2 linked regions of the Homo sapiens genome follow. The protein of the gene in region 2 interacts with the protein of the main gene of each other region in a pairwise test. Each region holds a gene or a part of one and is shown on either strand. Other genes may lie near its edges.

Evidence for each region.
Region 1: the proteins of AARD (region 2) and TSGA10 interact in binary tests that used the Homo sapiens proteins (3 or more experiments, as listed by UniProt).

Annotation. Positions count from the first base shown.
Region 1 is NC_000002.12:99,106,443-99,109,942, reverse strand, and holds part of TSGA10 (testis-specific gene 10 protein), read left to right. Parts: intron 1-386; coding exon of another isoform or gene 387-503; coding exon 504-554; intron 555-951; coding exon 952-1,110; intron 1,111-3,500. UniProt on the Homo sapiens protein: Plays a role in spermatogenesis. When overexpressed, prevents nuclear localization of HIF1A.
Region 2 is NC_000008.11:116,941,207-116,944,987, reverse strand, and holds the end of AARD (alanine- and arginine-rich domain-containing protein), read right to left. Parts: intron 2,431-3,781; coding exon 2,287-2,430; 3' UTR 501-2,286; downstream 1-500.

The DNA.
Region 1 (3,500 bases), on a different chromosome or scaffold from region 2:
TCTGCCCGCCTCGGCCTCCCAATGTGCTGGGATTACAGGCATGAGCCACCATGCCCAGCCTAGTAGCATATGTTTTTCTAAAGCAAATCCATGCCATTTCTAGGATGTGTGCTAGGTCTGTGGACATTTCTGGCCTCTCTAAAATTTCTTTACCATTTTTTCTCCAAAATTATCTTTCAGTTAAAATATAGCATACCCAGAAATCCTGGAAAAGAAAGATATCTAACTGCTTTTTAAAAATTACTGATATATAATTTTTTAAATGTTGTATTTAAAAAATACCAAATTAAATGTTTTTAAGGATCCTGTTTGTTTTCAATTTCACTTAGAAAATGATGCTATAGTTTAGCTTGAAATAATGGTCTAATTTTTTCCTCTTTGGCAAGATAATTTTAGATACTGAAAAAGCACAAAATAAATCTCCTTCTAGACTTGATTCCTTTGTCAAGACTTTGGAAGCAGACAAAGATCACTATAAGAGTGAAGCTCAACATTTGAGAAAGATGATGCGAAGTAGGTCTAAAAGTCCAAGACGCCCATCACCAACTGCCCGGGTAGGTTTTATAAACTTACAAATATTTTGGAGTTTGTTGCCCAGACACTGGCTTTTATTCTTTGTTTTACCTAATTTGAAAATAATTTGTTTTGATTTGCTGTGAATTGCTGTTTCAAAGGGGTTGAGAGACAGAGGTCTCTTTGATGGCACAGTAGACTACTGATATTGGTTCTTTATCCTCAGCATAATTAGCACTTGGGAGGTAATCAGGCAAATGTGGAATAATTTGGAATGAAGCTGTTTTAAAAAGATGTGGTTTTTAAACTTATTTTTTATAATTTCCTTTCATTATATAGTCTTATTTTCTTAAATAGAAATTGGGCACTACCATCAGTAGCACCTTTCTATCAGTACTATATATCAAAGAAGATTTCAAATTCCTTATATAATTATAGGGTGCAAACTGTGATGTAGAACTTTTGAAGACAACAACAAGAGATCGTGAAGAACTTAAATGCATGCTGGAAAAATATGAGCGCCATTTGGCAGAAATTCAGGGTAATGTCAAGGTTCTTAAATCTGAGAGAGACAAGATCTTCCTTCTTTATGAACAGGTAAACTTACAAAAAACAAATTATATAAGTAATAACATTGAGTTCTAGAGTTATGTAATTCTTCTTTGAGTTTTATGAGACTGCTTAAACCTGCAAATCAAGTTAATCTAACATTTGGGGATTACATATGTTTTTAAGATATTCTTAATGAAATGTAGTACATTTCCAATACAGTAGGTATGTGAGTACACACGTATGTTATCCCCATAGCCAAAAATCATACACATGTATAAAAATAGTCTTATTTTTGGAATAAGATATGAAGAAACCGTTAAATGATAAGTTGTTATGAGTTCAAGGTAAAAAGATCAAATCCTGACCTTTTTACCTTGAACTTGCCACACCTTATCACATCACTTTAGGAACTTTTATATAATTTGCTTAATTTTAGAGAATAAAAGAAGTATGTAGTTTATCTCTGCTTTCTAGCTTAGAATTGCATAGCTTTTATTAATCAAATACCTTCTTTAACCCAACAAGTATTAAATCCTATAAATCACCCATATAACTTCTTTTAAAAGTATCACAATTTTTTAACAAATTATAGCTACTATACACAGGGTTCTAGGCTCACTACTCTAAGGGATAGAAAAATGATAAGATGCTGACCATGTTTTCCTATAAATTTACAGTCTAGTTAGGGAGATAAAGTATATTGTATTTATTGATTTTTATTAAGTGGTCTAGAAGATATTATAAGAAACAAAAGAAGTGGGCATTTTTAGATATGGTGATCAAGGAAATCTTTATTAAAAGATACAAAGTGTGAGCCCTGAAAAATGAATGGAGTTTCTATTACCCTGAAAGGGGCTAGAAGGAACAATCCAAACTAAAGGAATGGTATGAGGCAAAGGATAAAGGTAGGAAAATCAGCAGATAAATAAATTGGTTTAAGACTAGAATAGAGGGTATGTGTCAGTGGAGAAGGGAGAGAGCTAAGACTTGAAAGGTAAGATTGCACTAGAGCAGGAATCAATATACTTTTTCTGTAAGGCCCAGACAAAAAATATCTTCTGCTTTGCAAGCCATGTGGTCTCTGTTGTAACTAATCAGCCCTATTGTTGTAGGGTGAAAGCAGCTTTGGACAATACATAAATGAATAACTTTGGCTGTATTACAGTAAAACTTTATGGATACTGAAATTTGAATTTCACATCATTTTTACTTGTTTTAAAATACTCTTTTGATATTTTCCCCAACCATTTAAAAATGCAAAAATATTTCTCCACTTACAGACCTACAGGAGGCAGGCTAGATGTGGCCTGTGAGTTATATATAGCTTGCTGACTTCTGGACTAAATGGTACAGGCTGTTCAATGGGCCTTATATGGGGTTTATATTTTGCTTCATAAGCAACAAACAATCTTTTTTTTTTAAAGGCAGGCAAAATATGAACAAAGTATCATTTTTACAATTTTACAATTTTAACCTTATGGCAAATTTTTATTTCTCACATAATCTTTCTATACTGTCTTCTTATTTAACAATTTCTCCTTTGAGAGAATTGATGGAGGGAGAGACCATGGACTCCTCTTTAGAAGGCTGTTACACTAGTGCACATATAAGGCATTAAGGGACTAAGCAAGGGTGTTTCAATGGAGATAAATATAGGGACAGATGCAAAAGACCCTGTGAAGGAAGATTTGACATGATTTGCTTTTAGGAAGAAGGAGGGTTGCATGACAGTGACTAAAATTCTGTCTTGAATGACTCAGCAATGTGGTAATAAAATAAAAAATAGGAGAGTCATTGGTGGTTTGAGGAAAAAGATGTGAGTTTGTTTTTAGACAGAGTAAGATAATGATAGCACACTCAGGTCGTAATTGCCATCAGACTGTAAGAAATGTGGGACTGGAGTAGAGAGAGGCAAGAGTTAAATAGTTAGCTTTGGAAGTCATCTGCTTAGAGGTGAGCTTCGAGCCTTCAGAGTGGATGAAGTCTCTGAATGAGAAAACTGTACATAGAGGAGCAGAAACGTTAAGTTATAATATTCAAGATGCAGAAGGGAACCTTTGAAAGAGACAAAGATGACAGACAGCTAGGGAGGAACAATGTTAAAAGGGAGGAAGGAATCTCAAGAAGAAGGATGTTGTGAGCAGCAACAGACCACTGAAATATCAAGGAGAACAGGAACTGAGAAAAGACCATTATATTTGGTTAGGTCTTTAGTTGAAATTCCACAGAAGGTGGGAGGGTGGGAGCCAGGTTGTTCTGGGGTGATAGAATGGATGGTAAGGAACCATTGGCAATAGTTATAGACCATGGGACTTTTTTTTTTTAATGTGTCGCAGGAAGAAGAGACATAGGATGGTAAATTGGTCAGCAGGATCAAGTGACAGGTTTTCAAGATAAGGGAGCACTGTACATGACTGAAGGCAGGGGAGAAAGTG
Region 2 (3,781 bases):
AATGACATTAGTATTAACCAACATCAGCAGTCTGTATTCTGTAAGGAATTGAGCTCATACAATGAATCACCTCGAGTATTTTTTAAACACAAAATTACAACAATTTATAAATGTTAATCTTTAAAATGCACTTGAGAATGATTGTCCCAAAGGTTAAGTGGAAGCTTTTTCAAAAAACAGATCACAAGGAACTATGCCAACCCTTTCCTAAAAATTTCTATAAAATTCAAAGGAAGAAATAAACAGGAAATCTAGTTTACAAATGAAATTTAATATAGTAGTCGTATATTTATAGGCCAAGAGCTCATACGTAAAATGTGTGAAGGAACACAATGGTCAGATATTGAGATGCTGGCAACTGCTCATCTGCCAATGCTGAATTTGGTAATTCCTCATTTATACAGAGGGAAATTAAGTACCAAAGGGCTAGAATAATTTACTTATTGTGGACAAAAAAGTTAAGGACAAACTAAACTTAGTCCAGATAATTCTCAGATCCTCACACACATAAAACAACTTGCATTTATTTTATTTTTATTATTTATTTATTTTTTCGAGGCCAAGTCCCCCTCTGTCACCCAGGCTGGAGTGCAGGGGCATGATCTCGGCTCACTGCAACCTCCATCTCCCAGGTTCAAGTGATTCTTATGCCTCAGCCTCCTGAGTAGCTGGTACTATAGGCGAGCACCACCACGCCTGGCTAATTTTTGTATTTTTAGTAGAGATGGGGTTTTGCCATGTTGACCAGGCTGGTCTCAAACTCCTGAGCTCAAACAATCTGCCCACCTCAGCCTCCCAAAGTGCTGGAATTACAAGCGTGATCCACCATGCTTGTCCTTGTATTTCTTTTAACAAGAGAAAGACTGTGTCTCTTCTGTTCTCCTTTGTCTTCAAGAACTGATTTTTATAGTTTATTAAATATTAAAATTACATAGCTTGTTATAAATTAATTTGTATTTTGCAGACAATAACCATTATAAATATCACTTAGATCTGCAACTATTTTTTATTAACTTTACTGTTTGCATTAAAAAGACAGCACTTTTCGGGTACAGTTAGATAGTCCAATTCAACAGTAAGAACCATTTTAACTCCTAAAACTGAACAACTGTATTAGTTATGAACACTAGATACAAGTCATGAAACTCCAGCTTGAATTTACTTAGGCAAAAAGAGATTTTATGAGAAGGATATCAGAATATTTCATGTACATAAACAAGAGCAAGGCCTGGAGTCTTATACAGCTTGACCCCAGGAACAAGGAAGCGAAGCACCCTCCCTCCCTCCCTCCCCTTTTGTGCTTTTAGTGGTTCCGTTTCAGTCACCTCCATTAGGGTGTGGGCTTTCTCACATGGTGACCACCAGCAGCTTCCAAGCCCCTGATCCACAGCTTCTACTGGCAGAAATAGTCATCTACTCTTTTAGTGCCCATTCAAAAATCCTAAGGACAAACCCATCTGCCTGCCTTGAGCTGCATGACTATATCCAGGAAGATGGAATACCCTTAGTCACAGACCACCTAAAGGGCATGGTTAGAATCCAAGTAGAAACAATTCTCCACAAGAAGCAGGGCAGGCTGCTGGACAGACAAACTGAGAATAATCAAGTAAAACAAAACAAGCACAAACTCTGAAAGCTCAGGCAATGCCAGAAAGGTCAGGTGACACAAGGTTGAATACCGAAAGTTGGCATTAAAGCATTCTTTGAGTGAGAGAGACAGAGAGAGATTTATCTATAGTTATATTTTACTTCTATGTCCCAGTAAAAATAACAAATAAATAACTTTAAAACTTGGTAATACATCATTTTTCTCTCCCCTCTCTTAGATGTTTTTCTGTCACCTTCCCCTGTCATTTGTTTTGGGTCTATAAATTGCCCCTCAAAACTTATGCAAAGCATAATGTGTTCATCAGAATTGTTTCAGGGTTGTATGCGTTAGTTTTAGGATCCAGAGCTTCGCGTGTGCTTTTTTTTTTTTTTTTTTTTTTGAGATGGAGTCTTGCTCTGTCACCCAGGCTGGAGTGCAGTGGCAGGATTTCGGCTCACTGCAAGCTCTGTCTCCTGGGTTCACGCCATTCTCCTGCCTCAGACTCCTGAGTAGCAGGGACTACAGGTGCCTGCCACCACGTCTGGCTAATTTTTTGTATTTTTAGTAGAGGCAGGGTTTCACAGTGTTAGCCAGGATGGTCTCAATCTCCTGACGTCTTGATCCGCCCGCCTCGGCCTCCCAAAGTGCTGGGATTACAGGCGTGAGCCACCGCGCCCAGCCCTTGCGTGTGCATTTCTTTATTCCGGATTCGCAGCATCATCTTTTGGGCTTTGGGAGTCTGATGTAATTTCCAGTTCATACTCCTTTTTCAATTGCTGCACTTTCATGTTTAGGTCCAGTAAAGTTCTAGCCAGCTGGTGGTTTTGGAAATGCATTTCCACCTAAAAGTTAGAAAAAAATAAAAATTTTATTAGCCTGAGATGCAGATCAAATGAAACCACTCTCTGACTACACAGAAGAAATAAGAAGTTTGTAGGAAAAGAAAATAAGATATCAAGGAAGATGTATTTCTCATCTTATTCTCCAGTTTTAACTGTTTGGTCTGGCTATAAAACTGACTTTCTATATGACAAGGTAAAATCCAGATATATAAATAGTTTTTGAAATGGCTTGAAATGAAAACAAAAGTAGCTGATGCACAAAGCTGTCCATATGAAAAATACCTATGCACCGAAGGCTGTTTTCAAGGAATAGCATGTGATCCACAATGAAATCATTTATCTTTATGCGCCTTCTGAGCCACAGGATAACTGCCTACAGCCACCTGAGTATTCAGAATCTGTGCTATTTACTTGATTACTTATCATTTCAAGTTTTCAGGATTTTAAATGGTCTACCTGCTGAGCAAAAACATTTAATGACACCTTAGAGACACATGTATAGTTATGTGTACTTATATAATCTAACATTTTTCACTCTGGAGTGAAATCTGTTTCATATCAAGGCTGATTTATACCATCCTTCAATGGGAGTTTATGAAGGTCCTCGTGCGTTTAAAAAAAGATCTCTAGGGCATGTTACCCGGGGGCAGTCCAAGAAAGCTTAGTCCAACATAATCTTTGTATTATAACTGAAAACTAATGATCAACTACTTGCAAATTTCTTCAGCTAGGGCTTGTTTAATGCAGTTCACGAGGAATTTGTTCTCTCTGCTAAAAAAGCTTCATCAGCTTGTCAATAGAAACCACCCCAGGATGAACCAGGACAGTGTGTTGGTAAAAAGCAAATATTCATGGTCATCTGATTTGCAAAATAAAGCTACTGGATAAAATTATCTTTCAGTTTTTCTCTGAGACATTCCTCTCCATTCTGAAGCACCTAGAATCATTTTTCTGACAGCAAGAATTAGCAAAGAATAAAGTAAATGAATATCCAGCAAACAAGCACTAACAGTAACCACACAACCACCACAACAAAAAACCCTTGCACCTTGCCTGCAGGAAGCTTCAGCTCTCTAGGGTGGCCCAGATGCTCTATAATCCTGCCCTACTTTGAGCTTCCTTTCCTGGCCCTCTTTCCCATGCCAGCTCCCATTGCAGCTGGTCAGAAACCTTGCCAGTCCCTAAATAAATGCTGAGCTGAAGCTCACCTCTTTCTGTCCCCATTTCTGTTTAAGATGCCCTTTGCCACCTCTCTCTGCTGAACCCAGTCAAATGCCAGCTCTTCTGAGAAGCCCTCCCTGATTGCATGGGCAGACATAATTGCCTCTCATCTGTGCATCCACAGCACTCT